Linked DNA regions of Homo sapiens: all the other regions are reported to be linked to region 2. Evidence: microRNA targets listed by miRTarBase, many of them from high-throughput screens and not tested one by one. Region 2 holds a microRNA gene; each other region holds the end of a gene's coding sequence.
The links. The annotated mature microRNA hsa-miR-650 reads AGGAGGCAGCGCUCUCAGGAC and lies in region 2 at 2,858-2,878, shown strand. An mRNA with a match to its seed (bases 2 to 7 or 8) in the 3' UTR can be bound and repressed. Matches are read on the target gene's strand: a 7mer-m8 pairs with bases 2 to 8, a 7mer-A1 pairs with bases 2 to 7 and ends in A, and an 8mer does both.

Region 1 (4,622 bases), not on the chromosome of region 2:
CTTTCTTTCACGTGAGTCTATCTACGATTTTATCTTGCTGTTCTTTTCCAAGTTTTTTTCTTTTTTTTTTTTTATCATGAAGGTACTGCTTTCATAAGCTTGTGACCAGCTTTGTGATGAGTGTTGGTAATGGTGAAATGTCAAAAGGCAGGTGCTGTTCCTTTAACACAAGAAACAGACATTCTCCCCCAGGTACTAGCTTTCTAATATGTACAATAGATAGGCAGCTGGGTGCGGTGCCTCATGCCTGTAATCCTAGCACTTTGGGAGGCTGAGGCAGGTGGAACCCTTGAGGTCAGGAGTTTGAGACCAGCCTGGCCAACATGGTGAAACCTTGTCTCCACTAAAAATGCCAAAAATTTAGCCAGCCGTGGTGGTGCATGCCTGTAATCTCAGCTACTGAGGAGTCTGAGACAGGAGAATCACTTGAACCTGGGAGGCAGAGGTTGCAGTGAGTCAAGATTGTGCCACTGAAGTCCACCTGGGCGACAGACAAGCAAAACAAAACAAAACAAACGAACAAGAAACCCAAAAAAATAGCAGCAGAATAATCAAAGCCTCTTGGATGAACTTCCAGTTTTTTCCTTATTGATTTTCTTTCACTCTAAGATAGATCGTCATGATAAACTGCTTCAATGAATAACTTCTCTACGTAGGAAATGTAGAAAGCCCAAGCAATAAACCCAATTTGATTGAGAAGAACTATGAAGATGTCATCTGTAAAAACAATGCTCCTTTCAACAATAATAAATGTATTGGCCAGGTGCAGTGGCTCACCCCAGTGGCCCAGCACTTTGGGAGGCTGAGGCAGGTGGATCACGAGGTCAGGAGATGGAGACTATCCTGGCTAATACGGTGAAACCCCATCTCTACTAAAAATACAAAAACTTAGCCAGGCTTGGGGGCGGGTGACTATAGTCCCAGTTACTTAAGAGGCTGAGGTAGGAGAATGGCATGAACCCGGGAGGCAGTTGGCCGAGATCGCACCACTGCACTCCAGCCTGGGTGACAGAGCAAGACTCCGTCTCAAAAAAATAAAAAAAAAATAAAAATAAAAATAAAAATAAATAAAATAAATGTATCTTTCCCCAGTACCTTGGGATAGATTTTTTACATTGACTTGCTGTGCTAAGCAATGTGAAATGTTCTGATCCCTAGGAAATCATTTTCTGGGGAGTAGGAAATAAATGTGCCCAATTCTGAATTTTTGCCAATAGCTGAGATAACAAAGAGTCACCAACTGCTAGTTATCAGAGACAAGAGTTAAACTTGCATTTAAGATGATAGGATATTGGCTTTGCATTCTGATTTACAGAAATAAAACTTTATGGACTGAAAAAATAGCATACGTAATATAAAAAGAGGCTTACTCTTAATGTTCATGTAAAAATTAAAACTTCTGTATAATTTGATGTTTAAAATAAAATATTTCATGTAAACGATTAACTTTTAATGAAGTTTCTCTTTTAACTTCCATGATACATGTTCAAGATGTATTAAGTAAAACCCAAATGTGTACATACACAAACCTCTTATATATCTATCTATCTATGTATCTATCTATGTATCTATCTATCTATCTATCTATCATCTATCTATCTATCTATATATATATATATTTTTTTTTTGAGATAGAGTCTCGCTCTGTCACCCAGGCTGGAGTGCAGTGGCACAATCTCTGCTCGCTGCAACTTCCATCTCCCGGGTTCAAGCAATTCTCCTGCCTTAGCCTCCTGAGTACCTGCGACTACAGGCATGTGCCACCACACCGGGCTATTTTTGCATTTTTAGTAGAGGTGGGGTTTCATCATATTGGCCAGGCTGGTCTCAAACTCCTGACCTCAAGTGATCTACCTACCTTAGCCTCCCAAAGTGCTGGGATTACAGGTGTGAGCCACTGCACCTTGCCTATATATTGATATAAATGATGATACATATATAAAGCATTCTTCTGAGAAGTTGCAAAGATGCAAGAGTAGTTTTTCTGTAGGGCTCAGACAACCTGTCATACATAAAACAAAAGGTTCCCACATGGAAGGGTTTCTTTTTTTTTCCTTTCTTTCTTAATTTTTTTTTTTTTTTTTAGACAGAGTCTCACTCTGTTGCCCAGAGTGGAGTGCAGTGGCACTATCTTGGCTCACTGCAACCTCCACCTCTCCAATTCAAGAGATTCTCGTGCCTCAGTCTCCCCAGTAGCTGGGATTACAGGCATGCACCACCATGCCCGATTAATTTTTGTATTTTTAGTAGAGACAGCATTTTACCATGTTGGCCAGGCTGGTCTCAAACTCCTCCAGTGATCTGCCCGCCTTGGCCTCCCAAAGTGTTAGGATTACAGGTGTGAGCCACTGCACTTGGCCAGATTTTGTTATTGTTGTTTTCATGCAACAAATCTGACAGGAGAATAGGAGTCCAACCCCTGGAGTTGCATTGGCTGCCTCTGAACTCCCTAGAATTCTAAATTTATCATTCCATGTATTAATTATTCCAGTGATTCCTCCCATAAATAAGTTGTTCCTTGGGGAAAATGAGAGACAATTTGGGAAGTTGTGTTTCTTGTTTCAGGCCACTAGTAGTATATGAAAGAACCCCATTCTTGAGGGCTGCCCATAAGCATGTGCCCATTTGCTAAGCAGATAACCTAAAGACAAAGAGGCCAGGCATGGTGGCTCACACCTATAATTCTAGCACTTTGGGAGGCAGAGGTAGGTGGATTGCTTGAGCTCAGGAGTTCAACACCAGTCTGGGAAACATGGCAAAACCCCCCCTCTACAAAAACTACAAAAATAGTGGGCATGATGGCACACACCTGTAATCCCAGCTACTTGGGAGGGTGAGGTGGGAGGGTGGCTTGAACCTGGGAGGTCGAAGCTGCAGTGAGCTATGATCATGCCATTGCACTCCAGTCTGGGTGACAGAGCAAGACCCTGTCTCAAAACAAAAACAAAAACCAAAACAAAAACCAAAACAAAAACCAAAACAAAAACAAAAACAAAAACAAAAAAAGACAATGGTCACTTCCAAAACTCCACTGTTGAACCATACTGTTGAACCATAAGGTCACCTGGAGCACTGAAAGGATAGTTGATTCATATTTTGACCCTTTCCAACAAAACACTTTTCACTAAGTTAAAAATGTTGCCCCTACATTTTAGGAAGCCCTTCTCATACCTGTAAGTCAGTCTTGTCCTGTTTCTATCTCCATACACATTAATTTTCTTGGGGTCATGACTTCCTAACTTCTTCAACATTAATTCCAATTCTCTATCAGATAACTTAAAACACTGAAAAAAAAAGCAGAGTAAAAGAAAGAATAGAGGCTAATCTGAGAAGACTTAATTCTCTTATTTAGCTGTAAGCAAGTTGGGGTGGGGGTGCAATGTCATTTGTGTGTGTGTGAGGATTCCTAACATGTTGTGTGTGTGTGTGTGTGTGTGTGTGTGTGTGTGTGTGTGTGTGTGTGTGATGGAGTCTAGCTCTGGCACCCAGGCTGGAGTGCAGTGGCACAATCTCTGCTCGCTGCAACTTTCGCCTCCTGGGTTCAAGTGATTCTCCTGCCTCAGCCTCCCTCTCAGTAGCTGGGATTACAGGCATGTGCCACCACGCCTGGCTAATTTTTATATTTTTAGCAGAGATGGGGTTTCACCATGTTGGCCAAGCTGGTCATGAACTCCTGACCTCAAATGATCTGCCTGCCTCGGCCTCCCAAAGTACTGGGATTACAGGCATGAGCCACTGCGCCATGCCCCGACATGTTCTTAAAGAGCAGAAAAACATGTAACGCTTAGTTCACTTGAAAGCCTTCCACGGAATACATTTCAGTGAGTGACAGACACAATGTTTTTGTTCCATTAGAAGTATTTTATTTTAAAGTACACTTGAAATTTTAAATGTGTACAAATTCAGAGGTTTAAAAAACTTCGAAAGTCACAGACACAGAATTTAGGAAGCTGAAGGCTGAGAGTCTCCCTTCTCACTTAATCCATGCTTTATTTTGCATTCCTCACAGGTAAGGAGGCAGTGCCTAGAAGAGAAGCAAAAATAGACAGCGGTTTGTACTTTGACACTGGAAGCCCTAGTCTTTACATAACATATTATTCTTATTATTTTAACATAATCTTTTTAATAGAGATGTGGGGGGAGTCTATCTATGTTGCCCAGGCTGGTCTCGAGGGCTCAAGGGATCCTCCCACCCAACCCTCTTGAGTAGCTGAGACTACAGGCATGAACCACTGCACCTGGCTTTAACACAATATTAGAAATATAGTCTATGCTAAAGTTCACTAGCCTTGTTTTTTCAGAAATAATAGGAGTATTCTCCCATTCTGTAGGTTGCCTGTTCACTCTGAAGGTAGTTTCTTTTGCTGTGCAGAAGCTCTTTAGCTTAATAACATCCCATTTGTCAATTTCGGCCTTTGTTACCATCGCTTTTGGTGTTTTAGACATGAAGTCCTTGCCCATGCCTATGTCCTGAATGGTATTGCCTAGGTTTTCTTCTAGGATTTTTATGGTTTTAGGTCTAACATTTAAGTCATTAATCCATCTTGAATTAATTTTTGTATAAGGTGTAAGAAAGGGATCCAGTTTCAGCTTTCTACATATGGCTAGCCAGTTTTCCCAGC
Region 2 (4,622 bases):
GCATCAGTAGTTCATTTAGGGTGATGTGATCAGGATGGACTGGTGTTTTGGTGACTCAGCTGTGACTTGGGAAAATAGGGCCTGCATGGAAGATCAGACTGAGGTAGACATCCACAGTTGTCTCTGGATTTCCATAGGTGGTGACAGGCCAGTCCTTGCCCCAAATGTCCTAGATCAGTCCCCAGAACTGCCCAGCTCAGGCTCCTGTGGTAGCCTGTCATTCTTTAGAGAAACACCAATGGAGTAGACACTGTGGGATCTGCCCAGATCCCCTGTTCTGAGCTTACCCACTAAGCACTACTGGGAGCTTCTGGCAGGTCAGAGCTGTGTCCTCACTGTAAAGTGCTGTTCGGTGCAGAAAACAGACTCCTCCAGGTCTATGCCCTTTCTCAGTGAGGTTAGATTTCATGACTGCCTGAGGCCGAGTTCTCGACTCTGCCTCAATATAGGAAGACCTGAAAATCCTCCCAGCTCCACAGCTCTCTGTAGGAAAGACTTGAGACCTCAATGAGGGTCAGGGTCTCCTGCCCAGGGTTGCCTCCCTCACCTCCTTTCACATCCTCTGTGCATGCAATTCCTCATCTCAGAGTCTGCTTCCAGGGAACCCAATTAAGATCACCAGCCATCCCCAACATGGGCCATGTGGGACTTCAGGAGGCCACTGTATGCTGGAAAGCACCTGTTTATTCCTAAATTAGCACTGTGAGTATCCACACGCCCAATGAGATCTGAGTGTTTCTTGCATTTGCATGGAATGAGAAGGGAGCCTGACTCGCCAGGTGCTCTGGGGTCTAAGGGAGAGTTGGAGTCAGATCTCCCTGCAGGGAAACCTGGGGCAGGAGGAGCAGCCTTACCCCATGCAGGGACCACAGATGCACCCACAGGGTGAGCTTAAGTATGGACACTGCCTACCTCCACCCTCCACATCCTGTGTAAAAAATCATTCTTTCCACCCCTCCTCCAGCCTATCAAAGTTGACACTTAAAAAGCCACCACAACCCACCCTTGTCAACAGGAAACCCATTCACATCTCCATCAGCCACACAATCTCCACATAAAGATTCTTCAAAAAATAATAACAATAGCCATGCAAAGTATATGATATATATCATAAATAATTGTACTTAGATTATATATGAAAATGATACTCTTTTTGATATGCTAGGTAAATAAAATACATTATTTAAACTCATTGACTTCTTCTCTTTGTATTTATAACATGATGACTAGACAGTGGGATTCCCATGAGGCTCACATCACATTGTGATTGAACAAGGCTGGTCTGCAGGGCTTCAGGTTACAGGGGCTGTGGAGTGACCTGGTGCAGGAAGCCCCGTCTCCATCCATAGGACATCAGTGTGAACCCAGGGAGAGGCGCTGGTATAAGAGAGATGAGAACACAGGTGTGAACCACCTGCTTGTGCAGGGGACTGAGCCTTCACTTTGAGCCAAATAAGTTTTCTTTCCCAAGTTCGATCCTGAACAAGAGGGCTTTCTGGACTTCTTTTTGTTTTCAGGTTTGTGCCCCTTCAGGTTTGGGGCTGTCTGGAGTCCCAGCCAGGGGACAGTGAGGAAATCCAGCAGTCTCACACTGACTCTGTTGTATTTCATCTGCTGGGGCCATCCCAAACTGCTGCGTACCATTTCCTTTCCTGGTGCTCAAATAGCTGCTCCATGCACTTGTCATGGTTTTATAGCTCAATCTAGATGGGAAGACAGGATAGTGTATGTTACAATATTTAAATAGAACCTGAATCCCTTAATAGTTATTTTAATATGGAACATTAAAAGAGTTGCATCATAGGCAATGGGGAAAGATGAAGAAAGATTAAACGCATTTGGAGGAAAAACTAAAAATGTCTTTATTGAATGTCTGTGTGTCTTCAGTGTCGAAGGGTTGAGAGAGGTCAGCTTTAGGTTGTCCTGAGGATGTGCTCAGATGGGGGAAAGTAAGAAAGCCGGAAACGTGCATCTCTGTGACCTGACACATAAATCACAGTAAAATGGAAGTAAATCTTTCAATAAACCTTTCAAGATAACATCACTCTGGTGCACATAGAAAGGCCTGTTAGCAAACTTTCCCTTTTCCCTGCTGGCTCATATCCCCATGGATCACCTGTATGCAGAACGGACTCTGTGGTCTCCATTTATCAGGCTGAGAACCAGAGGCTGGGAAGGACAAGTCACCTGCTCATGAGTGGGAGGGGCAGGATTGGGAGCAGCGGACTCAGGCTCAGGACTGTGGCCCTGGTTGGTGCTCCTTGTTCCCTTCACAGGGTCCCACCCACATGTGCCCGTGTGGATGTGGGTGCACTGCCTGGGGTGGCTGATGTGCTCCAGGGATTTGATGGTGCAGATGCTTCAGGACAAAGCATGGGAGTGGGGATGGGACGAGGCTGCCGCTGGGCAGACCAGGGACCAACGCCACCCAGCAGAGGCTTCCAGTGGGGTTGGGCAGCCCCATTTCCTGAGAATAGAGAGAACCTGGCAATGAGTGCCAGAAAGAGGTTACTTCGAGGTGTGCCCAGGCCTGGAGGGTCACAGAGACACAGGCACCACACAGCAGAGACACTGAGGGCCAAGAGCTCACTCAGGTGAGGGGCTTCAGCAGATTTTTCTCTCCTGAGCAAATCACGTGCAAAGAAATCAACTTCCTGTCATCAGAATAGACAATCAGGGACTTTAGTCTCCTTGGCTGAGCCCCGCTGTCAAGGGAAGCAGAAGTCTCTAAGCCCAGGCCCAAGTGAGGGTGGGGTGAGAAGAGGAGCTCAGGATGCAGATTTGCATGGAGGTCCCGCCCTTCTCTGAGGCAGAGGGGATAAGACAGGGCTGGGGGCAGGCCCAGTGCTGGGGTCTCAGGAGGCAGCGCTCTCAGGACGTCACCACCATGGCCTGGGCTCTGCTCCTCCTCACCCTCCTCACTCAGGGCACAGGTGATGCCTCCAGGGAAGGGGCCACAGGGACCTCTGGGCTGATCCTTGGTCTCCTGCTCCTCAGGCTCACCTGGGCCCAGCACTGACTCACTAGACTGTGTTTCTCCCTTTCCAGGGTCCTGGGCCCAGTCTGCCCTGACTCAGCCTCCCTCCGCGTCCGGGTCTCCTGGACAGTCAGTCACCATCTCCTGCACTGGAACCAGCAGTGACGTTGGTGGTTATAACTATGTCTCCTGGTACCAACAGCACCCAGGCAAAGCCCCCAAACTCATGATTTATGAGGTCAGTAAGCGGCCCTCAGGGGTCCCTGATCGCTTCTCTGGCTCCAAGTCTGGCAACACGGCCTCCCTGACCGTCTCTGGGCTCCAGGCTGAGGATGAGGCTGATTATTACTGCAGCTCATATGCAGGCAGCAACAATTTCCACAGTGTTTTAAGTCAATGAGGAAGTAAGATCAAAACCTGCCCTGGGCTCTCAGGCCCCCTTCTTGCTCTGCAGATGCTTCCTCACGCTGTATAAGGGTTTCCTGCAGGATGGCCTTGACAATTCTCCTCTCTCAGCTCCTCTCCTTTCCCACCATGAGGTCTAAAAGGAAACCTGCTCGTGATTTCTCGTTCAGGACTGTGGCAACTTCCTTTTGCTTGTGTGCTCTGGTCCCTTAACGTGCAACTATTCCTAGCTCTTCAATGCAGGGACGTAGGGACAAGGAGTTTACTGCTTGGTGCAGTCCCTCCTGTTTTCAGGAACATCCTCATTCTAAATGCATCCCCCATCTGTCACACTATGCAGATCAATCTGGACAGAAGCCATCAGGGGGATGGCTTCCAGTTTCCAGGAATTGCATCTTGTTCCACTCTGTGTCCACCACGCTCTAATGAAGATGGCCCTCCTAGCTTAAAGTGACCACTTTAAGAAGACTTGAAGATGTTTTTGAGGGATTAAGAACAAAGAGGATGCTGCTGTTTTTCTTTTTATTGCTCCTGCTCTTTGCCGAAATTCCTCAGGTTGCTGAGCTGGGGAGATTTTGAGTGACAGGCTCAGTGCTCTCGCAGAATTCTCCTCCCCTCACATCGCTGAGGCCCTGTCCTGGAAACTCCTCACAAGTGGACGGTCTTCCCATAGGATGGGGGATTCCAAAATGGCTCCACAGGAAAGAGTTAACCTGAGTCCACCTCCCTTCCTCATGGACATCGAGCATTTCTAATTTTCATGGCTGTCAATACTTTTGTACCTGGAATCCCTAATAATCTAATGGTGAGAATTGATTTAGAACACATTCGGACATTAGCTGGGTCCAATATTTAAATTTTCTGAGCCAGTTGTTAAATACAGCTATTATCATATATAGTTTAGGCTCCTTAAACTTCGATTATACAGATTATATTTAAAACAAAGTAACTAGTTTACTATATATATTTACAAAGTAACTACTATATAACATCATGTTGTGTACCTGAAATATAAACACTAAAATTTATTTCAAAAACCAAAGTGTATTGTCTATTGATGCATAAAAAAACACTCACAAAACTTAGCACACTAAGAGAACACATGTCTGTGACCTTGTGACTTGGATGCACCTAGAATTGGGAGTAGCTTAGTTTGGTCATTCTCGCTCCTGGTTAATCACGAGGTTGCAGCCAAGCTGTCAGGCCAGGCTGCATTCAGGCTACATCTGCCAAAGAGGTT
Region 3 (4,581 bases), not on the chromosome of region 2:
CGGGTCTTGGTGATCTTTTTATCTACCCTGGTGCCTGGCAAGCAACAAACAAATATCATCAGCAGAAAGCCAGGCTCAGCTGAGATCATGAGAGCCCAGGAAGCAGTTATATCAGGAGTAACAACCTGGGTCACAGCAGGCCCAGGACCCTGGAAGCTGAGCTCCCCTATATGGGAAAGGAAGAACTAAAGCCAAACTTCAAGTGCCCTTCCAGAGCCTGAGCTCATCACTGAGAACCTCTGTCTGTCCCTTCTCCTGCAAAGAGAAGGACACAGGTGGGAGAGGAGCATGGGGTGGGAACAAGGTCAGACATAGGCCTGTGGTGGTTTGATCTGTTCCATACCTAGGATGGGGACTGGAGCCTGCTCAGCTTTCACCTTCCAGCGTTACCTGGAGCAACCCTGTGGGGAGCTGTAGGCTGTCCCCATAGACTTCTGAGATGTCTTTCTTTCTCTCCATCTGCAGGAAGATGTCAGAGCCCCAGTCTTTTCCCTAGGAGAGGCTTCCCTAGATGGTGGGAGTCCTGGCCCAGGCCACTGTGGGTTTTACGAAGTTGAAGGTCCTGGTTCGGTGATGGCACAGGGGCACACATAATAACTTCCTGCCTTTCAGGGAGCACAGCTCAGCTCCACAGCAGGACACCTGAGCAGCCAGAAGCTAGAAAGATGCAAGCCTGCCTCCAAGTGGTCACATGTCATAACTGCAGCCCACAACCCAGACCCTCCAGGCAGAGGTGCCTGGGCAGCATTGACTATGGCAGGCCAGGCAGCCACCATCATCTGGCTCTGAAGATTCCACGTGCTCAGGTGAAAGAGAGGTGCCGGTTCTACATGAGCAAAGGAGCATCAAAGTGTCACACACACATGCATTCAGACTTTCACCTTTTATCATGGTTTTAGAAATAAGGATGCATAGGCCAGGTGTGGTGGTTCACGCCTGTAATCCCAGCACTTTGGGGGGCCGAGGCAGGCAGACTACCTGAGGTCAGGAGTTCGAGACCAGCCTAGCCAACATGACGAAACCCCATCTCTACTAAAAATACAAAAAATAGCCGGGCGTGGTGGCACACGCCTGTAATCCTAGCTACTTGGGAGGCTGAGGCAGGAGAATCGCTTGATTCAGTGGAGGTTGCAGTCAGCCAAGATCACACCATTGCACTCCAGCCTGGGTTACAAGAGCGAAACTCCGTCTCCAAAAAAAAAAAAAAAAAAAAAAAAAAAAAAGGATGCATGTTCAGTGAGGTCAAATAACCTACTCCACTTAGTTTGTAAGCATCAGTCTTGGGCCAAAAGTCATGTCCACTTGATGCTGGGATTCCACTTCAATCAAATGAGGCAATTGGACTCTACTGCAGCTAACTGCTACTTACACATCAGAATTACCCAAGGAGCTTTAAACATATTTATCTATCCCTCTGACCCAGGCTGACTGAATCAGCATCCCTGGGTGTGGGCTGGGAATGTGTCTTTTCAGCACACTTCCCCAGCAAGATAAAAGTGCCTCTGTAAACTGAGAGCAGGAAACCAGTGGGCAAGATTGTCAACTCATGGAGTCAGGGACATGTTTAATTCATTTGTGAATCCCCTGGTACTGGCACATAGAAAGCGTCCCATATTATCTGCAAAATGAATGAATGAATAAATGAGCAAGTAGGTGAATGAATGATTCTGAGGTCTCCTCCAGCTTTGATGGCCTATGACCGTGTGACTCCTGCATATGCATGAACACACAGACACAGACACTACACACATGCACAGACACACATACACACTTGGAGCAAAGAGGGATGAAGCCTGCCACACTGCAGGTGGTCCTAGCTGCCTGACCTCCCTTCCTCACACACTGACACACCTCCCTCTTTGTTGACCTGTTATTTATTGTGCACCCATTGGGTGCATGGCCTAGCCCTAGGCCCTGGCCGGAGACCCAAACATGGCCTCCAAGGGCCAACCTTACTTTGTGGAGGTGCAAGCCCCAGAGCTGGTTACAAGCATGGGAAGGGAGGAGGGTGGCCTAGCAGGAAGGCTGGGGAGGCAGTGTGTCAGCCGGCAGGCAGCAGCGGGTAGCAGAGGCCCCCTCTTGGCGGGCAGCCTACTTGCACACTTGGCTGAACAGAGACAATGGTGGCTGGTCCCTCCGGCCCAGCCTCCTTCCTACAGGCAGAGCCCCAAGTCCATGAGTCTCCGGAACCTCCCTCAGAGAACAAGCCCAGCTGGGAGGCAGCCAGAGGGCAGGATGAGGGGATTTCCCAGGGGAGAGCAGCAGAGACCCTCTGAGCTGCCAGAGATGGGGAAGGGGTCCAGGCACCCCACAGGAAGGAAGGTTTAAGGCATGTGTAGAAAGGAGCACAGAAAAGTCTCCCGAGCCTGGCCTAGGCCTCGCCTGGTCGCCAGCCTCCGTCCCATCCCTCACAACTCTCCTGAGCTGTGGCTCCTGCCAGGCAGACCCCTAAGGGAAACTGTCGCCACCTTTTACCTCTCTATCCTCTCCAGTGGTCTGAACATAGAGAACCTCCTTCTCTGCTCTGTTGGAACAAAGGCTCCTTGTTCCTAGGGTTCCAGGGTTCCCTGCAAAGCTCTGGAGGCCCCACCCCGCCCAGCCCTCACTCATGCCATCAGCTCTGCTCTGTTGATGAGCAGTTGGGTATGTGAGACTGTTTCATCTACTTCGGGGGAAAGGAGACACAAGGAGACAAAGGCACAGGGCCCCACAGCCGTGCAGAGCCCTTGAAGCCCCCCGAGGTCCCTGCCCAGAAGGCTGTCCCCTCAGTGGGCAGGACCTTAGCGACCCTGCTCCCTGGGTCACAGGAGGCTGGTTAGGAATTTCTCAAGAGTCCCTGATTCACTCTCCTGGGGCCTCCCCAGGAAGGTCACCTAATTCCCAGAGCAAGACCATCCTTGGGGCTGTGGCTCCCCTGGCTGGGCTGCCCAGGGGCCTCTGCTGCCCCAAGCTCTCCCCCAGAAGCCAAGGGCACACCACATAAGCACTGGTTCTCAAACAAGTGCTGAGTTCTCAGCAAGTCTAGGAAATGAGGCCACTCTGGATTCTGGGGCCTGGAGGGTGACATGGGCTGAGCTCTGGGAGGAAAGTCAAGTCCTCACCTCCCTCTTCCCTTGGGCGTGGCCAGGGACTGGGGCTGCGGAGGGACTGCCATGGGGGTGGTGGGGAGCACAGCAATATTAGGAAAGCTTCAGGGAGCACAAGAATGAGGGCCACAGGGAAACAAGGTTTGTCCTTCAGCAGGGAAAGGAGGTGCCTCATCCGTCATGGTGGACTCATTGAAATAAGTCTCCTCCAGGGAGGTTCATCTCAGGTCTACCCTGGAGCAGGGAACAGTGTCTCTGAGGTGGTGCTGGCTTCACAGCTGATTGCGGTTCCGCTTAGGGATGATCTTCCGGTAGGTTCTGCGCTCTGAGATGTTGCGCTTCACCTTGGCCGTGGTGGGAGCCTCATCCTGGTGCAGGGACGGGCTCGAGTGGGACTTCTTCAGGCTGAGCTTGGGCTCCCGAGTGCCTCCAGCTTCCCTCCCCAGCTGCTCCTCCCACAGGTCCAGAGCATCAGAGGGGCAGTGCAGGCGGGCCACCAGCAGCTGCACGTAGGTCTCGTAGCGGGTTTTCTGCAACACACAGGCCCCACCACCTTAGCACCATCCTGGCTCCAGGTTGGGAGGAGGCTAGAATCGTGAGGGACAGCTCACAGGTACATGAAGCTATGGCGATACAGACCTCGACAGAAAGAGGGCTGGACCAACCGTGAGTGTCAGTATAATGCTTGGATAAGCAGACTGCAGAGCACACCTCTGGATAGTATTATAATGACACATATCAGCCCAGCCCTGTTCTAATAATAACCAACCCCTTGGAGTGCTGTAACTAACATCTCTATGCCATGTTCCATCTTTGAGGCACTAAAAGATGTGTCACCCACTATGCCTGAGATCTTTGCAGCCCTACACACAAACAGCTCACATCTGTACAGCCCTAATTGGGTCTAAATAGCATTTTAACAATTGGCATCTGTGGAGCATGATGCTAACTACCCTCATCTACTTAACACTGTACTCCTGAGGCCCCTGCAGCTAGCATCCTTGGGATATGGTTTCCAGTTTACAAAGTGCTTCCTCACCCTCCATCCCATTGGATCCTCATGCCAGCCCTGGGAGGGGACAAATCATTGCGGAAGGGAGGGCTGGTGACTTGTTAAAGGTCCCAGCTGGTCAGTGGGAGGAAGAGGTTGGGTCCTCACAGCCACACCCTGAGGCCTCTGAGAAGTGGGGAGTTCACAGCCATGGATACAACCAACAAGCCAAGGGATAGCCTGGGACCTTGAAAGACAGGCAGAGGGCTGCATGCGGGCACAGCGGGGACAGGCAGGAGGCGATGTTGACTCCCACTTCCTGGTCTCTGCCTCTGGGTGGCCTCTGATTCCCTCTATTTTCACATTGCATTCACCTACCCTTCCTGCCCAGTGGGCCCTCACCCTAAGCAGGCACCCAGGATCCCTGAAGCAGGCACCCAGTGTTAGGATCCCAGATGAACTGACGTCACACCAAAGCAGAATTGGGGAGTGTGGGTGGATGGG
Region 4 (4,622 bases), not on the chromosome of region 2:
CAGGTGCACACAATCACACCCGGCTAATTTCTGTATTTTCAGTAGAGATGGGGTTTCACCATGTTGATCAGGGTGGTCTCGAACTCCTGACCTCAAGTGATCCACCCACCTTGGCCTCCCAAAGTGCTGGGATTACAGGTGTGAGCCACTGTGCCCGGCTGTTTTCTTGACTAGTCACTCACTGTTATCTCAACTATGTCCTAAGACATAGCTCACCCTAAAACCAGAATTCACGTTAAAGACAGGGTAAGATTACTCACTAAGCTCCAGCACTACTGAATTCCACTGTTGTGATTTCTCTCTCTCTTTTTTTGAAGAGACAGGGTCTCACTGTCACCCAGTCTGGAGTGGAGTGGCATAATCTTTCACTGCAGCCTCAAACTCCTGGAGTCCAGCAATCCTCCCACCTCAACCTCTTAAATAGCTGAGACTACAGATGTGTGCTACCATGCCCAGCTAATTTTTAAACAGTTTTCGTAAAGATGGGGTCTGGCTATCTTGCCCAGGCTTGCAATTTATAGAGCTCCAGACACCCTCATTGGTAGCTGCTTCTGATAAATTCCACACTATGGCCAGAAGATGGCAGCAAACCACCAGCTTCAGCCACTTACCTGTGGCCCAGGACACCGGACCAGGTTTCCAAAATCTGAGCTTCACATTCCTAGACCTCCAGAGGTTCTCTTCATGGCCACCTGGACAACTGGCAAACCATTCTGTTTCCTTACACGTGCACATATCATCCAGATAACTGAAACTCTTATCAATAAAACCCCAACATCACAACCAGGGCATAAATTCTCTTTCAAACATCATGGTGATATCCTTATCTTAGATTTTTGGTAAACATTTGGAATTGGATAAACCATCATCCTTAATTAAGACAGAGAACACTTTTTTTTTTTTTTTTTTGAGATGGAGTTTTGCTCGTCACCCAGGCTGGAGTGCAGTGGCGCGATCTCGACTCAGTGCAACCTCCGCCTCCCGGGTTCAAGCGATTCTCCTGTCTCAGCCTCCTGAGTAGCTGGGATGAGAGGCGCCCGCCACCACACCTGGCTAATTTTTTGTATTTTTAGAAGAGACGGGGTTTTGCCATGTTGGGCAGGCTGGTCTCAAACTCCTGACCTCAGATGATCCGCCTGCCTCGGCCTCCCAAAGTGTTGGGATTACAGGGGTGAGCCACTGCGCCTGGCCGACAGAACACTTTTAAAGAGAGATCCATAAAACATCGCCAGTCAGCTGACCTAGGTAGTTTGGGGTGTATTTGTTCTTCAATGTGGCATCCTTAGGGAACCTGGTGGAGGAAACACATGCATCAGCAGCCATTGGTGCCAAGCAGAACACAGCTAGGTTCCCTGTATCCCCCAGCACCACCCAGAGTCACCTGTTGGCACTGGCCAGTGGGATCCAGGTCCTGACCATTTGGAAGGTTTCAGGTGGCTTCTAAGAATTCCAACATTCATCAGCATAAATTCAGCTGTTATCTTAATTAGCACGATTATTTCAGTATCAGAAAATTAATAAAAATATAGAACTCCTGGGTCATGTAACCATTTGGACAATTATTCCAACTTTTAAGTTGGTGAAAACGCTTTTTAATAAAGCACATCACTCCATAAAACGCCTTAAGGAGCCCCGGGTGGTAATGAGAAACAAAGGCCCTTTGTATGCTAACAGGTTTGTGAAAAATGTAATAATGAGGGCACACTTTCGTTGCAGTCTTAATAAAAATTAGGAAAAGATTGATCAAACTGAATTACAAATGTTCTATGCTGAAATTGTGGTCATGACCCAAGTTAAGCGATCACAAATTCTTGCTGGTGTTGGAATCTCCATTCTTGGTCATGGTTTGGAGTGAAGACAGAATTTCCTATCTTCTTGTGCCAGGTTTTTCTTCTCTATGTCTGTTATTATAACAATGTTCTGTGGCGGCTGAGCCATGACTCAGTGAGTGACTCAAAGCACGTTCAGTACTCACCCCTCCCGCGGGCACGTGCCCAGGCTTGCAGGCACATGGCCCCCCTCTCCCGGGAGCCTTCACCTACCCCTAAAACCTGCAGGGGCCTGAACCTGGAACAGAGAGGCCTCTGGAACAGAGGCATGGCTCTGTCGAGGTCTGTGGTGCTGACCAAGGCTGCTTCCCTCTGTGTCTGCTTGAAGTCCACCCTCAAGTGGATTTCCCATCCACCCTGCTCCCAGAGATGGTCAAGATGGAGACCCATTCCATGGTCTCCAACGGGAAAAGTCAGGACCATTCTGGGTGGCTATGAAAACCTGGCCAGAGCATCCAAGCTCACATGCTCCCAAATGATGGCACCTGGCTGCTGACCTGACTGTGGTCCCCACATCCGGCAGAAATGGGAAAGAAGGGACAATGGAGCCACAGCGAAGAATAGCAGCTATGACTACCCCCGGCACAGACAAGACCAACATGGCTCCTTAGGGACAAGGACTTTGTGGATTGTAGGGGCAACCCTACAGTGGATGGCTTTATTTAGGGCCAAAAAAAGGCAGGGGATAGGAGTCCTCCTGGAATTCTATCAGTCTGTCTCTCTCTAAACACTCAATGAAGACCTCGAGGGGAGGTTGTGGTCTCTGTGCCAGACGAGAGGAAATGCTAAGGGTCACTGGGTTATGGAGGATAAGCAGAGGGCCAAAGGGATGATCCCTCTGAAGGCCTCAAGGCTGAAGGGCCTTCCTCTCATCTGCCAGGCAGAGCTGCCACCCTATCTCTTCTGTTCCATGGGGGGCTGGCCTTCTGCTAAGGCCGAGGGTGGTCTCAAGTCAAGAGGAGTATCAACCCCCTGCCCTACAGACCCAACTAGCAACATGAGACCAGATAAGACAGTCTCCAAGCTCACCTCCAGGTACAAATCAGGAAGAACCATATAAGGCGGCCTTCATGGAGGCAGACAGTTTAGGAGCCGGCCCTAGGATGCCCTGATTTGGAAGGCAACACAGAAACCCTAAGTCCAGGAACAGGACCATGGAAAATGGCCCTCGAGACCCCCTCTGCCTAGAGTTGCCTGTAATTATGTCATCCTTTCCTAGTCCCTTTCAAGATAAATAGAACATGAGTGGAGAAGTGAGAATACGCAAACTGCAGATAAAGCAGGCCCCCTTGAAGAGACTGTAGACCCCTCTATCTCGGTCACCCGCCCTGCCCCAGATGGGGTTCTTCCTTCACGGAAGCTTTGACCCCACCAGACCCTGCCCAGGCGTCAAGGAGAGCCTCAGCCAGCCCTGCAGTCTGGGATATGATGGGGAACCATGAGACTCCCCAAGAGTATAGATACCACCTCCCCCTGGTACCTGCTGGGCATAGCTGCCGTCCTCCTAGTAGCCAGGGGCTAGGCCGGGCTCACACATCAGACTCAGTGCAGTGTGTTATCCTTTAATGAAAAGCTGGGTCAATGGAGTCACCACTCTCCCCAAGACCCCCCTGCAGCAGATAGCCCTCACCATGGCTACCTATGAGGCAGGGCAGCCCTGTGGCAGCCAGCCCTGCTGAGGGGTCAGTTTGTAGTGGCCTAGGAGAGGCGTTCAACTCTTAGACCTAGGATGTGGCAGCAGCAACAAGGCCAGAGGCAGCTCAACTGAGGTCAGGGATGGTGGAGGAGGCAGACAGGAAGCATGGGGCTCTCCTCCTTCCTCTCCGAATCCCAGTGTGGCCAAGGCCAGTGTTCAGGAACAGTACAGTCTCCCCAGGGGCCTGGAGTCTCTTCCAGCCACTCTCTGGAAGCCCTTAGTCCCCAACTCCCTGCAGACCGGTGTCACAGGGTCGCTGGACTCGGGGAGCAGGCTGGGTACTACCCCATGAGCCTTGAGGCCCCGGGTCTAGGAGGTGGATCCAGCAGGGCCGAGGCCAGAGCCACCAGGAGACTGGGAGTCACCTTCCACTAACTCTGCTTGTCAGTCACTACAGGCACCTAAGAAGGTGGCCTCTCCTCCGAGCTTCCAGGGCTGCCCAGGCCAGGCTGAAGCAACAGCAGGCCGTGGCTCCTGGGTTCCTATAGATCTGTGACCTTGTTTTCCACAGCAGCTGCAATCTGCTGGAGCCGATAGCCCAGCTGCATCTTCTGGGCCGTGCCATCCTCCTCCAGGGCAGTGATGATCTGAAACAGAGACCAATGCCATCAGGGGAGACTTCTTTGGCCAACGTGTTTGCTGCAAAATTCAACAGCCCTCCTAAGACGCTGTGGCATGAGTGGGGTAGGAGGCCAAGAAACCCAGCCGGTCACTTCACGTACTTTCTGGGACCTCAGGGCCTCGCTGGCGGGAGGGGTAATAACATCAAAGTCACCGCGGGGTTCCAGGATGAATAAGGTAGGAAATGAAGGACCTGACTCAGTAGCGAGCTCCTCAGAAGCCCTGCTGCAGCCATCCTGGCTAACCCACCCGCCAGCCAACAGTATTTCCCAAGTTCCTGTCTGCCCGGTGCCAGACAAGGGGCAGAGACCCAAGAATGACCAGACACGTGGTGGGAAAACAGACACTGATCAAACACGAACCACGAATTTGGGGCTGCCACCAAGGGAACCGGTAGGAACCGGAGGGCAGCAGCACTTGGGAAAACAGCTACTGCCCACTATGTCTCCACAAGGGGACATGCCTGCATCACACCC
Region 5 (4,622 bases), not on the chromosome of region 2:
GGCAACAGAGCGAGACTCTGTCTCAAAAAAACAAAACAAAACAAAACAAAAACCTCATCTTGCCTAAAAACTCCCGAGTTGCTCACCATCCTTAGGCTGAGGCTCCAAGGCCGTCCACGATGTGGAAAGAGCCCTCTTCCTTGGCTGCCACCATCCCAGACTCCCTTTAGTTCTTTGCATGGAACTACCCTCTCCCCCAATTAAGGGCTTTGCATGTGCTGTTCCTCCTGCCTAGAGAGCTCCTCTCCCCACCTTCACACAGCCAATCCTCATCATTAATTTGCACGTGTAAATATCCCCTGGGGAGCCCTTCCCTGGCCCGTCCCATCGGCTCTGGCAGCACTCATATTTCCCTCTTTGTAACATTCATAAGACTTGTCATTTTCTTCTCAGATTTCCCTGCTAGACACAGGCTTTATGAAGGTACGTCTGTCTTGTTCACTGGTTGCTCCCTGGCACCTGGCACCTGGCACTAGGTGGCCTTAGTCAATACTGAGTGAATAAATGAATGAGTGAAAGGGGTTTAGGGGAAAGGCCCTGACTCTGTACGTGATCTGCAGATGTTCAGGCTCTTTGTTTTAACACCTGAAGATTTGAGGGTTGGACTAGGTGAGCTCTGATGTTTGTCATCTTTGTAGGCTTCACCCTCTGCCTGTCCCTTTTGCTCCTGGATGATGGTGGGTTGTATGGTGGGGCTTGAGATTAACGGGAGAGGCTGTGGATGAAGGGAGTTAAAGGTCACTGCTACTTAGTTAGCAGCAGGACGGAGTATACCTAAAGCAATCTAGCCAATTCTTTCAGTTCCAAAATCCAGATTCCAACAGCCATCAGAACAACACAGCCCTGTACTTGGCCGTGCAAGATCTCCCAGCTATTATGTCATGACAGCCAGCCCAGCCCAGAGCTGTCTCTGAAAGTCTAGGATATAGCCTTGCTCGGCCAATGAGTTCTGCCTGGGAAGTTAACTAATGATAGTAGTTCTCATTTGCTCAATATTAGTGCTGCAAAGTGATCTCCAGACCCCAGCCCGGATCCTATCTTCAAAGCAGGCACAAGTTCTAGAGAGTTCTGTGAGGCTGGCCATGATGGATGTTGGAGTTGCCCACATTCCCCTCAGTTGGTGCATAGTCAAGGAGGTGGAATACTTCCCTAGAGAAACACCAGGGGTCACCCCCATGGGAATGCCACTTTATTCGAAGCTCTAGCATCAATATTGGGTCATCTCAGTTGGGGAGTACCCAGTGCCAGGCTCTGCCTGCCAGATATACACCTGAAAGGTGGAGGACCAAGGCCTGTTTGTGGCGTTTCCTGCCACAGAATTCGGATTTGTATCTTTCTGCAGATTCCAAAGGCATAGTTAATTTTACAAAATTAAGTCTGCATTAGCAAGGCTTTGGGCATGTTCAAACCCATTCATGCAGTTTAATGAACACAAAAGCAACCTGCTGTTACAGCCTGCAGCCCACGTTAAGTTTGGGTGGACTGCCTCATTGCGTAAAACCTGGGGGAGTGGGAGAAGTCTCCTCTGGAGCTGTTATCTTGCCGGCAATTTGATGCCTTCAGCACGGAGGTTCAAATCTGGACTTCGGTTCCAAGTAGCAGTTGCTTAAATTAAGTATAAATCAGCAGTGCCGTGCGTTAGTAGCGTGGTTGGATGCATTCACTGCTGAGTGACCACGAACTCCACTGCACTGATGCAAGGTGGAAAACCTGAGCCAGAGCCACACACAGGGCTGGGCTGGGCGGCTCTGCCCCGTGACAGTCAGCTGAAGGGAGTGATTATACTTGCCACATCACCTCCGTTCACTGTCCACCGAACAGCTCTCCCCCAATTAGGGCTTTGCATATGCTCTAACACTGCAGCTCCCAGGCAGGAACTGGTTAGAGGGTAAGAGATCTGGGACTTGCTAAGAGCTTCATTATTTTCACAGATGCTCAGGACTTTATCCTGAAATTGGCAGGGGGTGGTGGTTCATGCCTGTAATACCAGCACTTTGGGGGGCCGAGGAGTTCAAGACCAGCCTGGCCAACATAGTGAAACCCCGTCTCTATTAAAAATACAAAAAATTAGCTGGGCGTGGTGGCAGGCCCCTGTAATCCCAGCTACTCGGGAGGCTGAGGCAGGAGAATGGCTTGAACCCAGGAGGTGGAGGTTGCAGTGAGCCAAGATCGCACCGCTGCACTCCAGCCTGGGTGACAGAGCGAGACTCCATCTCAAAAAAAAAGACTTTATCCTGAAATCAAAAGTTGTACTGCCAAATAGAATGGCTACACGTTACATCTATTTGAACGCATCATTGCAGCAAATCTATGCTCTCTAAAAGCGACTGGAAGACATGAGTTCTCATATGAGGGTGAGAAGAACACGGGCTCAGACAGTGCGTACTCACTCCCATGACCGTCGGAGTTAAAATGAGGGGGTGACAGTGCTGCAGCTATTCCAGGACCGGTGCTATTTATAGGAGCCTGTTCCAAACCTTAACCCACAGATACCAAATCCACTGAGCACTGTATGCAAAGGGAAACAAGAAACCGCTCTGCCAGGTCTGGTCCCTCGTAAACTCCCCAGATGACAAGCAAGTTATTTAATATGTTCTTTCTATGTTTGGAATGAATCTGTTTCCAAGAATAAAAGCATACAAACAATATCTTTATTACCTGTAATATACTTAAAGAGCAGGGGTCCCCAGTTGGTTAAACATTGAAAACAGTGGGAGAGCTTCAGAATAGAGAAAAATGACTGTGCCTCACCCCTCACTTACTGAGTCAGAATCTGCAGAGAGGGAAGTGCTGAGAGATGTCTTTTTAAAAAGCTCTCCAACTCTCCAGGTGCTTCTGTCCACCAGCCAGATTTGGGCACCGGTGCTGCCCAGCATGCCCCAGGCTTCAGGGTATGGGAGTCGCCCTGGGCTTGGGTCAGGCTGGGGCTCTCTCATTCACCAGGTGTGGGGAGGGGCTTGAGCCTGCATTTCCAGCAAATTCCCAGGTGGGGCTGAGGTTGCTGATCTGCAGTGCTCCATCTCTGGGTGTGTACCTACACACCCGTCACCTTTGTTGTACTGGGCTCAGGTATAAGTTGCAGGGTGCACCGTGTATCCCCGTAGCCCTGCCCTACTCCATGCTGCCCCCAGTCTCAAGTGGTGCTTGAACTTGCCTTCACCAAGGCAGTTCTCGTCTCAGAGTTGAACCCTCCCTGAGGGCCCCCAACAGCCCTCTCCAGGCCTTGTATCAGTAGGAAATGAAAATGCATTAATTGGGAGGGGTTTATCTGGGGTCAAAGGCTCAGGGAGATCATTCTTTTTATTGCCAAGGACCAAGAAACAAAGTGTAGAAATGCTATACACAATGGTCATGAGCTACAAGGTAGGAATGGGGTGCAGGGGAGACGTGGTAACACACAGCACTATTCTGAACGAACTCCAGCTCTCCATTCTAACACTTGAACCAAGGAAAGACAGCAGTCCTTTTTCACTAAGCCTGCAACAGAATGCAAATGTGACTTGGTTTATCAGCTCCCACAGGACAGGCAGCGCAAAAGGCTATTGTAAGCTGGTTTTGGGAGCCCCCATCTCAAACAGAGAGTGGATGCTGAAGGTGGTCCCTGGCCGCCACTGGTGGCTGGTCCCCGGCTTGCTAGGTCCTGGGCATGTCTCGATTCTCAATGATCAGCTTGTCAGTTGAATACAGTTGGCCAATGTGGACCTGAAGGCAAAGAAAGGACACAGGTCAGGAACCGTGGCCCTCTAGCCCCTGGGAAAGGCCAGAAGGAACATTTCCTAACATTTCTAATACAAACGTCGGCCATCCCAGGGCTGCTCCCTTCCGGCAACTGCACTGCGGGGCAAAGCCGGCCACTAGAGCACCATCCAACCCCCGTTTCCCTCACTGTGAGAAGTTACAGAGATCCACACACCCATTCCTCCCCTCTGAAACAGCACAGGAGGCTGCAGCCTGGGACTCGGGGCTGTGCTGAGCTGGGTGACGCCTGCCTGCTGGTGGCAGAGCTGTCAGATGTGTGCCCAGTACCTCCTCTCCTAAGAGGGCTTCCTTCCCTTAGAACTGATTCTCGCATAGGGAAGGGGTTTTAGAACAGTGCAGAAATGGGCGCCGTCTATGCTGGGGTAGGAAAAGCGCTGCATTCAGGGCAATGCAGACACCTGTCCGTGGCCCATCCCGGGTGGGGTCGAGGGCAGTTGTCTGAGTGCCTGCACCTCCTGCCTTCTATCTTTCCTGCCCCCTTCTTTTTAAAGTGTCCTTTTTATTAAGTGTCTTAATGCCCAATGTTTCCACTGTCCCAGGTGGATGCTGGAGCCATCCTCTGGGGCTAGAGCAGGTCTTTCCTCTGCAACAAAGGGTCTTGCCACAGTTTTTCTGTAAAGCATTTCCTGAGTGATACATTTTTAAGAACAAGTGGAATGGGTGAAGGAAGGGCTGATCATTAGCAACTCTATCTGGATTTCAGACCAGTTGGTCACTATCTATGGGTAATTCGGGGTGAGTAACTGCTGTTTAAGCAAACAGAGCAGCCAGGGGTCAACATCCTCATGGTTTTCCTCCCCGATCTTAGTGCTCTATTTCGAAGTGAAGGCCCCGGACAGAAGGCGATCATGTCATTACTACAG
Region 6 (4,541 bases), not on the chromosome of region 2:
AAAAATGAAACAAAACAAACTCAAGCTGAAAGAAGTCAAGAAACAGAAAAGGTGGGACAAAAAGCACAAAATAAGATGATACAAATAAATCTTAATATATCAGTAACTTTGACAAATGTAAATGGATTGAACTCCTTAGTTGACAAATGATCAGAAAGAAAGAAAAACATCCAGCCACACAGTTTTTTTTTTTTTTAAGACAGAGTCTCGCTCTGTAACCAAGGCTGGAGTGCAGTGGCGCAATCTCGGCTCACTGCAACCTCTGCCTCCTGGGCTCAAGCAATTCTCCTGCCTCAGCCTCCTGAGTAGCTGGGACTACAGGTGCACACCACCACGCCCAGCTAATTTTTGTATTTTTAGTAGAGATGGGATTTCACCATGTTGGCCAGGATGGTCTCAATCTCCTGACCTCGTGATCTGCCCGCCTCGCCCTCCCAAAGTGCTGGGATTACAGGCGTGAGCCACCGTCCCCGGCCCCAGTCACACAGTTTTTAAAGGGCATATCTAAAACATAACAGCAAGGTTTAACAGAAGGATGAAAAAAGATATATCCTATAAATCCAGCTAGCTGGCATAATCCATATAAATATAATATATAGTTTATGTATTTTTATATTTATGTATATATTTATAATTATTTATTTATAACAAGACTTCAAAATATATAAAAATATATAAAACTAAAATTGACAGAATTACAGGGAGAAATTGGTAAGTTCACTAGAATAGAAAATTTCAACACATCTCAGAGTCTGAGAGATCAAGTAGAAGACAAAAGAATAGTAAAATGGAAAAAATTTGAACTACAAAATTAACAACTTTGGTCTAATGGACATCCAACAACTAAAAAACAAGCATACTTTTCAAGCAATCATGAAACATTTACAAAAACAGGTTATAATCTAGGTCATAAAGCAAATCTCAACAAATATTAACAGATCAGTCTTAACATGTACCTATTTTCTGTCCACAATTCAAATTCAATTAAAACAGGAATCAATAAACACAGAATTTAAAAATATACACGCTAGGAAATGGGAAAAAAAAGCCTCATACATATGTTAGTCGAGAAAGAAATCATAATTAAAAATTAAAAATACATAGAACTTAACAAATCTTTCTATGGTGCTTTAAAATTATAAAACATTATTTCATTTGATCATTGCAATAATCCTATGAGCTACATAGAACCCACAATATCTCTGCTCAACAGCACAAACACAGCAGAAATGTTACAAACTGGCTAGGCACAGTGGCTCATGCCTGTAATCCCAGCACTTTGGGAGGCTGAAGTGGGCAGATCACTTGAGGTCAAGAGTTCGAGACCAGCCTGGCCAACATGGTGAAACCCCTTCTCTACTAAAAATATAAAAATTAGCTGGGCATGGTTGTACATGCCTGTAATATCAGCTACTCAGGAGGCTGAGGAACAAGAATTGCTTGAACCCAGGAGGCAAAGTTTGCAGTGAGCCGAGATCGCGCCACTGCACTCCAGCCTGGGTGACACAGTGAGACTCTGTCGCGCAAAAAAAAAAAAAAAAAAGGAAAGAAATGTTACAAATTATGTAGTTATTAAAATTGTTTTTTACATATAAATAAAATATATATAAAAAGTGATTTGGCAACTAGGAAACAGAAGCAAAAGCGTTCACCACTAAAAATATCAAAAGGAAGGTAAATAAACCAACTCTTATAGAAGCTATGTCGAATATCAAAAGGAAGGTAAATAAACCAACTCTTATAGAAGCTATGTTGAATAGTTAAAAATGTTACAAGAAACAATTGAGTATCTTAATGTCTAAAGCTCAAAAAGCCCATCAATTCATTTTGGTTTAGGAAGTCCCTTAGGTATTTATGGAATAATAAACAAACTTATAGGGTAAAGTATTTATTATTCACATGAGATGAACACAAACTATCAGAAATCTTTGCTATACAAGTTGGGTAGCCACAGTTAAGAATATATTCCCTTCACACACACAATCTTAATTTCTTGGTTACAGCATTCGTTCAATGATGTGTTGGCAATTAATCGCATTCCAAAAAGTGTCTACGGTACAAAGGGAATTTTCATTTAAGGCTCCCCTCCCTTTTCATGTGTGGGATATTTTTGGAAGTATTTCTTTTTCCATCCACTGAATTAAGAAAATTCCAACATGCCTTGGTGTCAGCAAGTGCGCTTTTTAGTCCAGGTACCAGCAAATGATTGATGAGCCTGTCAAGCCTACAGTAGCGGATAGAGAAAGTTGGCAGAAGTTCAGTGTTATTGAAAAAAATCTCAAATACTTATTTCATCTCCTCTATTAACTTTAATCACATTTTCAACATGCAGCCAAGAATGAAGCTTTGACAGTAAGCCATACATTTACACAGGCAGGCATTGTCAATTTTCTGCAGTCGCCACACTGAGATAACACAAGAGAGCTGGATATTTTCTTTCTTGTGCCTTTCTTTACTAAAGAGCAATAAAAAATATGTGAAAGATTTATCCATACCTCAAATTTGTTTACCATAAATCTCGAAATTATTGCATTTACTTTTGCTTGGTTTATGGCAAATAAAAAATCAACTTAGTTCTTCAGTTAGATTTTTTTTTTGTTGAGATGGAGTCTCACTCTGTCACCCAAGCTGGAGTGCAGTGGTGCCATCTCAGCTCACCGCAACCTCCGCCTCCTGAGTTCAGGTGATTCTCGTGCCTCAGACTCCTGAGTAGCTGGGATTACAAGCGTGCACCAACATGCCGGGCTAATTTTTGTATTTTTAGTAGAGACGGGGTTTCACCATGTTGGCCAGGCTAGGCTTGAACTCCTGACTTCAAATGATCCGCCTGCCTCGGCCTCCCAAAGTGTTGAGATTACAGGTGTGAGCCACTGCACCCAGCCTCAAATTAGACTGTTAAATGCAGGTTTTTAAAGATCACAGTGATGACAGAACTGGTACATGTTTCATCATAATATACCTGCTTATGAGAACAGACATTAACACTAAAAAGGATTTACATTTAACATGGACCATTTGCTGTGTGGGCAAACACTTCTGGTTCATTCAAAGCCAGGAACTTTATATGGTTCCAGAGGGACTCTCTGGCAGATTTTGTTGATTACTCATTAAACAGTCGAAACATGTATAGACATTATTTATCTTATAAAGCTTACCCACAGCAAAACAGACACAAAAATGAGGTAAATACTATGGGCAAGATTATAGCTCTTGGAAAAACTAAATGTCAAAATATATTTTTGGTAAGCTTTTCCTTCTAAGCATGCTTTAAAAAGCTGAAAATAGTAAGTGCTGGAAGGCCACAAAACTTAACATGTGTCTTCCCATCCACGGAAGCCCATGGCATTATGCTGCACTGTAAAATATGCAACGCTTCCCAAGAGGCAGCTCAAACACCAGCGTGGCCATCTTTGCCACAGCAGAGACAATGTGTTCACTCTCACCTCTCTGAAATGTGATCTCTGCTCCAAGGACAGCTGGCTTTTTTTTTTGTCTACATTACTCATGCAGTAACACTTTATACATCCTTCCAACAGCCAAGGAGGCTATGACAGGTAGCTTCTATACCTTCCCATTAAGCCACAATAATAAACTATTGTTAACCCTGTATAGAAATGAATGAAATTATCTTTCTAAGAAGTCTATACCTACAGTTCTCTGAGCTAATCAATGGAAAAGATGATCAATTCTGACTAACAAAGAGTATATTGATTCCATTTTCCTTCCTACTCCTCTTCATTCAAATAATCATATATAGGCACTTAAAGCTGGAAAAATGTGGCACCCTTCTTTAAATATCCAATCAGAATGCCAGTAGAAACTTCTTTCTTCTGATATAAGAGTGCCACTGAATATATTGCTAAGCTTGAAGCAGAGGCTAAACGGTCTGGTGGGAATAGTTTTCAGGAGAGAGGTGAACATCTTCTCATTAGTTTGTGATTGTTGTGGTTCAAGTTCTTAAAAGGTTGAAAATTTCGCTAGGTCCTTCTCCATCTCAGCATATTGTTCTTTAAGCCTTTCCATGGCTTTTCTGTGCTCTTCATCCACTTCAGCCCTTTTGTTGGGTTGCTCCTTCATGAAGTTGTCCCACTGGAGCATATGCTGTTTCTCACTAGCTACTAAGTGGTCACTATGAATCTGAGAAAAGAAAATTAGAAAGTCACACGACATTTTCCAGACAATTATTTCATAACGTTATCTCTTGATACTTGGTTACCGTAACAATCAGCTGGTAAGTCACAAGGAAAAAGTTGTGTTATAATATCCAAAAAAAGATGACACATTAGAAACATCTAAGGCTTCTCTCATTAAAATTAAACATGGATATTCTCATTTCTTAAATTTTAAAAGTGGGCTGGGCACAGTGGCTAATGCCTGTAATCCCAGCATTCTGGGAGGCCGAAGCCGGTGGATCACCTCAAGTAAGGAGTTTGAGACCAGCCTGGCCAACATGGCAAAACTCCGTCTCTACTAAAAATACAAAAATTAGCTGGGCGTGGTGGCACATGGCTGTAGTTCCAGCTACTCGGGAGGCTGAGGTG
Region 7 (4,000 bases), not on the chromosome of region 2:
GAGGCATGGGTGCAGTGAGTTGTTATGCCAGGAAAGGAGCACGATTAAGCCAGCGGTCTCCATTAGAGGCTGCTTGGCATCCTGGGATTGAAGCCAGGGGACTGACTCAAGTCTAATGTCTTATTCTCAGACAGTATTGATGCTAAAACCTTTTGAATACTGACGGAGGTAGGAATTTATCTTGTGAAGACCTCTAGGGATGGAAAGGTCCACACTGTCTCCTAGAAGCTCTTCCACATGTCCCTAGGCAGAGCTATTCCATAGTGTCTCCATTGTGTTTGCATTAGCACTTTGCCCTTTCCACCTAGATACCTGTCATGTCAAGAAACCATCACCTTCCTTAACAAAAGTAAAACCCAGAAACTCCACTGGGGTTTTTGCTGATTTTCTTTGCTGGCTGCCATCAAGATAGTCCCCAGCACAGTTGAAGGGCATCTAAAGACAGGCCTGACAGTTTAAGAAACTGACATTGAAGATTAGAGAATAGCAGAATATTATAGCTATTATGTAATATTAAATCCAGATGGCTGTTCTACAAGTTTAATGTGCTTAGAATTACCTCACAGAGCTTGGATCCATGAAGTCTGAGGAGGAACTTAGGAGTCTGTGGTCTGACTGAGGCAGTCCTGGGACCACTCTTTGAGAAGCGCAGCGCTGCAGAGATCATCTGCTTTATGAGGCACAGTGGGCTTGGGCACAACCCCCTCTTTCTTCATCTTACAGCCTGGATATTCACTTACCTGTTGATTGCAACTCTCAGCCATTAGAGTCATCTGGGGAAGTTGGAAACAAACTTGGCCCCTCTCCCAACCAATGAAATTGGGATCCATAGTGGGTAGGGCCCTTGCAGTGGTCACTTTTAAAGCTCCCGTGGTTCAAAGGTGCAGCCAGGATTGAGAAACACTGCGTTAGCATAGACTTTGCTCCCTATAAGATGCATCTTTGTTTGCTCTACCAGGCACTCTTAAGGCTCATCTTGGGTATTTATACTTCAGGGTAAATAGATTCAGAAAGGGAAACTTGATAACAAATTGAGAGGCTAAGGGCCTTGATACAACTCTCAGTTTGTCCACCTTTTGACCACTTAGTTGGTCTTGGTGTAGGTCTGGGGAAGGGTGTGAAGGACTGTGGAGTTCTGGAATAAGGGCTGCTTGCCTCTGACCGAGAGTCCAGAGGTTGCAATTCAGTGACCTCTGGGCTGCATCTGACCAGCAGGTACATTCTGTTTGGCCTGCAGTGTGGTCACAGGTGGCAGTTTTTAAAAATATGAATGCCAGCCTCTAAAAATCAGATATCCATAAGAGCATTCTCAGATCTGATGATATTTGATGGACGACTTGGTGCTAAGTCAATGAAAACTTATGAGTGTGGGTTCATTAATTCTCATTTAGCCAGGTTACCCCATTCATAAGAGTGATGACGGAAATGGAATATGATTTAGCAACATTTCCTTCTGATTCTATTAGAAGGCAATGGGTTTTGATACTCAAATTTTAGTTTCACCATTTTCACCTTTTGCTCCACATCAAGCCCTTCTAAGGCTGGGCTCGAATAACAGAATCTGGCTTGGGAAATAGCAGTCCTGGGTTTAGTTTTGGTTTTGCTGTGGGAGCCTAGGGCTCTTCCTGGTTCTGAGTGTCCTCATTTATGCAAAAACAAGATCAAATTATTTCCAAGGTTCTACTTACTGGGAATCCAAGACATGAATGGCACAAGAACAGAATGGAGACGCCTTGGCTGATGTCAGAGTGTAAGACGGTTAACAATGAAACCGGCCTGGAGAAGTCTGGGAGGCGTGAGAGGGAAGAGCTGGAACCAAGGGCAGAAGCTACAGTGAAACATTTAGGTCCTAACCGTCCACACTGGCCATAGATGGAAGGGTGATCTTGGGAGAGGGAGCGCTCCACCACTGGAGACGTCACACGGAGGCCAGGCAGCCACTAGGAGGGCATGTTGTGGGCAGCAAATGGTGGATGAGTCCCTTCTGACATGTAGAGGTAGGGGGGAGGAAGCAAGGAACTCCCTCATTCTACTTCCTCTCCTTCAAAGGGGAGTATGGCTCACTGTGATATGCTCTGCCCACAGAATGGGATGTCAGTGCTTGGTTGTTTTTAAACACTGTATTTTTAATTTTTCAAAAATACGACAGTAAAGGTCGTACTATGCACAGGGGGACTGATGCCTTTCATGTGTCCCCCTTGCATTTCTACCTCAAAACAAGACTAAGGCATAAATTACTCCACTGGGCGCCAGGCACGCCCCTTGTCCTTGGGGCATTATCACTGGTCATACCACTTGTCCTGGGGGCCGGCAGATGAGATATTTGCCACCAAGGCTGCACAGGCTCCGGGAGTCCTTGCACGTGCTTTATTCAGTGCATTCCAGAGGGGACCCCTCAACAGCGCTGGCCAAGCCCTTCCCTGTGCACTGGCGGGCATGAGGGAAGGATGGGAGGCAGTGTGTGTGTGTGTGTGTGTGTGTGTGTGTGTGTGTGTGTGTGTGTGTGTGTGTGTGTGTAGGGAGGGGGTGATACAGGGAGGGGAGGCTCCCTACCCCTACCCCTGCTGCCCAGCTGCAGCCAGGCCGGTGCGTCCATGTCTAGGGGCAGGCTGCAGCAAGAAGACGTGGGAATGCACAGCCCCAGGGATTGTGTCATCCACATGCTTCCCATGAGGTACCTGGGAACAAAAGTGACCCGGGAGGGTTGGCAGCTGAGAGCAAGGGGCTGCAGCTGGTGGGGGAATGTGTGAGTTGCGGTCAATGTGAATGCACGTGGGTGCAGAGCCCGGCTACCTCTCATCTCAGGACAGCGTCCAGTATCCTGGTCCCACTTGCCTGGCCATCAGTCTCCACATCTCAGAGTCTTTCTTCATCCCTGGCTTGCAGCTGTCACCATCAAGCCCTTGCTCTTGGGTTCATTCTTCGGGAGCCCCAGGGGCCTATCTATGGGGAAGGGAGTGGGTGTGACTTGGGAGCCAATGGAGGGGTGGGATGGGTGAGAGAAAAGGGCAGAATTCAGATCTGTTTTGTCTTGGATCCTTCTGGAACTAGAGGCCTGGAGTGTGCAGATTGGGTTCGTATTTACAGTCTTCCTCCCTGGGTTTCTCTGGAGGATGGGGATGATTACGAATTCCTAGCACCTTAGTAGCTGGGGCAGCAAATGCCCTCCACAGAGCCTGAGGGAGGCCTTGGCATGGGCCTGGGTGTGTGTAGGGGTGTCCCTTTAAATCCCTAGGGGTCTGTGTTAAAGGTGTCCCAGTCTCCCAGTAGGGCAGTTCCACTTAAAACCAGCTTGAGTTCCATTCTGGAGGGAGCAGGCGCCATTGCTCGGGAGATGAGGTCAAGTGCAAAGCCAGCTGGCTTCCTCTCCGCTCCAGCTCGGTGGGGCCACAGGCCTGGGTCTCAACACTACCTGGACTGGTGTCCTGGCCCCCATCAACTCAAAGTCTCCTCTGGAGCCTCACTCCAGCACTTTGGGGGTGGGGTCCAGACCAGGCTCCCTCCTGCGCCTGGCACTTCTAAAGAAGCCGAGCTGTGAGGAGGCAAAGGGAGACGTCTCAGAGGAGGACAGGGTGGGCAAGGCCTGCCCCAGCTTTCCCTCCACTACCTTTCCTTGGGATTCCTCCCTCAGGGCTTCCTTGAGTACCCCCAGCTCATTCTGAGCACCCCCTCCTCCAGAACTGCCTCTGTGGACTGGAACACAGTGGATGAGACCATGGGCTGCATGCAAGAAGTCATACTAGTGCCCATCTTGCTGTGTGACCAGCCCCAGCCAACATCCCTCTCTGGGCCTCCTTCATCTGTAACAGGAGGAGGCTGAGACCAGGGGTTTGTAACCAGAGCTTCAGAGACAGAGATGGACTTCGGGAGGTTTGTTAACAGCTTGACATTGTGGGAGAAATTTTGTGCAGTTGTTTGTACTTGCTTTTTTTTTTTTTCTCTAATAATAGGAACCTTAGTTTTCATCAGGTTCTCAAAGGCATCCACAAACAGGTTAGAG

Region 1: the mRNA of OCIAD2 is a reported target of hsa-miR-650. The part of its 3' UTR that is shown has no 7-base or 8-base seed match.
Region 3: miRTarBase lists PSD4 as a target of hsa-miR-650. Seed matches in the 3' UTR shown: 7mer-A1 at 2,579-2,585, 7mer-m8 at 2,216-2,222 and 7mer-m8 at 2,030-2,036.
Region 4: the mRNA of PLXNB1 is a reported target of hsa-miR-650. Seed matches in the 3' UTR shown: 7mer-m8 at 3,614-3,620.
Region 5: miRTarBase lists LYRM4 as a target of hsa-miR-650. The part of its 3' UTR that is shown has no 7-base or 8-base seed match.
Region 6: miRTarBase lists BLOC1S5 as a target of hsa-miR-650. The part of its 3' UTR that is shown has no 7-base or 8-base seed match.
Region 7: the mRNA of ITGA11 is a reported target of hsa-miR-650. Seed matches in the 3' UTR shown: 7mer-m8 at 2,451-2,457.

What each region holds. Positions count from the first base shown.
Region 1 is chr4:48,881,542-48,886,163 of GRCh38, forward strand. OCIAD2 (OCIA domain containing 2) reads right to left here. Exons shown (of 7, transcript NM_001014446.3): 7 at 3,478-4,024. The coding sequence ends at 3,943. Among named protein-coding and RNA genes, the nearest start is that of OCIAD2, 23 kb to the right of the region's middle.
Region 2 is chr22:22,819,934-22,824,555 of GRCh38, forward strand. It overlaps MIR650 (microRNA 650), which reads left to right and starts at 2,843; the gene lies at 2,843-2,938. It overlaps LOC105372948 (a long non-coding RNA gene), which reads right to left. Exons shown (of 4, transcript XR_938047.2): 4 at 1,048-1,703. It also overlaps IGL and IGLV2-8.
Region 3 is chr2:113,200,193-113,204,773 of GRCh38, reverse strand. It overlaps PSD4 (pleckstrin and Sec7 domain containing 4), which reads right to left. Exons shown (of 17, transcript NM_012455.3): 17 at 1-3,616. The coding sequence ends at 3,359. Among named protein-coding and RNA genes, the nearest start is that of PSD4, 29 kb to the right of the region's middle. RefSeq lists enhancers at 450-499, 840-889.
Region 4 is chr3:48,400,479-48,405,100 of GRCh38, forward strand. It overlaps PLXNB1 (plexin B1), which reads right to left. Exons shown (of 38, transcript NM_001130082.3): 38 at 3,376-4,112. The coding sequence ends at 4,008. Among named protein-coding and RNA genes, the nearest start is that of PLXNB1, 27 kb to the right of the region's middle.
Region 5 is chr6:5,105,790-5,110,411 of GRCh38, forward strand. It overlaps LYRM4 (LYR motif containing 4), which reads right to left. Exons shown (of 3, transcript NM_020408.6): 3 at 2,630-3,702. The coding sequence ends at 3,634. The region is part of intron 3 of LYRM4-AS1 (LYRM4 antisense RNA 1); the gene reads left to right. Among named protein-coding and RNA genes, the nearest start is that of PPP1R3G, 23 kb to the left of the region's middle.
Region 6 is chr6:8,011,692-8,016,232 of GRCh38, forward strand. BLOC1S5 (biogenesis of lysosomal organelles complex 1 subunit 5) reads right to left here. Exons shown (of 5, transcript NM_201280.3): 5 at 1,876-4,137. The coding sequence ends at 3,958. All of the region lies in intron 4 of BLOC1S5-TXNDC5 (BLOC1S5-TXNDC5 readthrough (NMD candidate)), which reads right to left. EEF1E1-BLOC1S5 (EEF1E1-BLOC1S5 readthrough (NMD candidate)) reads right to left here. Exons shown (of 7, transcript NR_037618.1): 7 at 1,876-4,137. Among named protein-coding and RNA genes, the nearest start is that of BLOC1S5, 50 kb to the right of the region's middle. RefSeq lists a silencer at 360-568.
Region 7 is chr15:68,299,599-68,303,598 of GRCh38, forward strand. ITGA11 (integrin subunit alpha 11) reads right to left here. Exons shown (of 30, transcript NM_001004439.2): 30 at 1-3,532. The coding sequence ends at 3,461. Among named protein-coding and RNA genes, the nearest start is that of FEM1B, 24 kb to the left of the region's middle.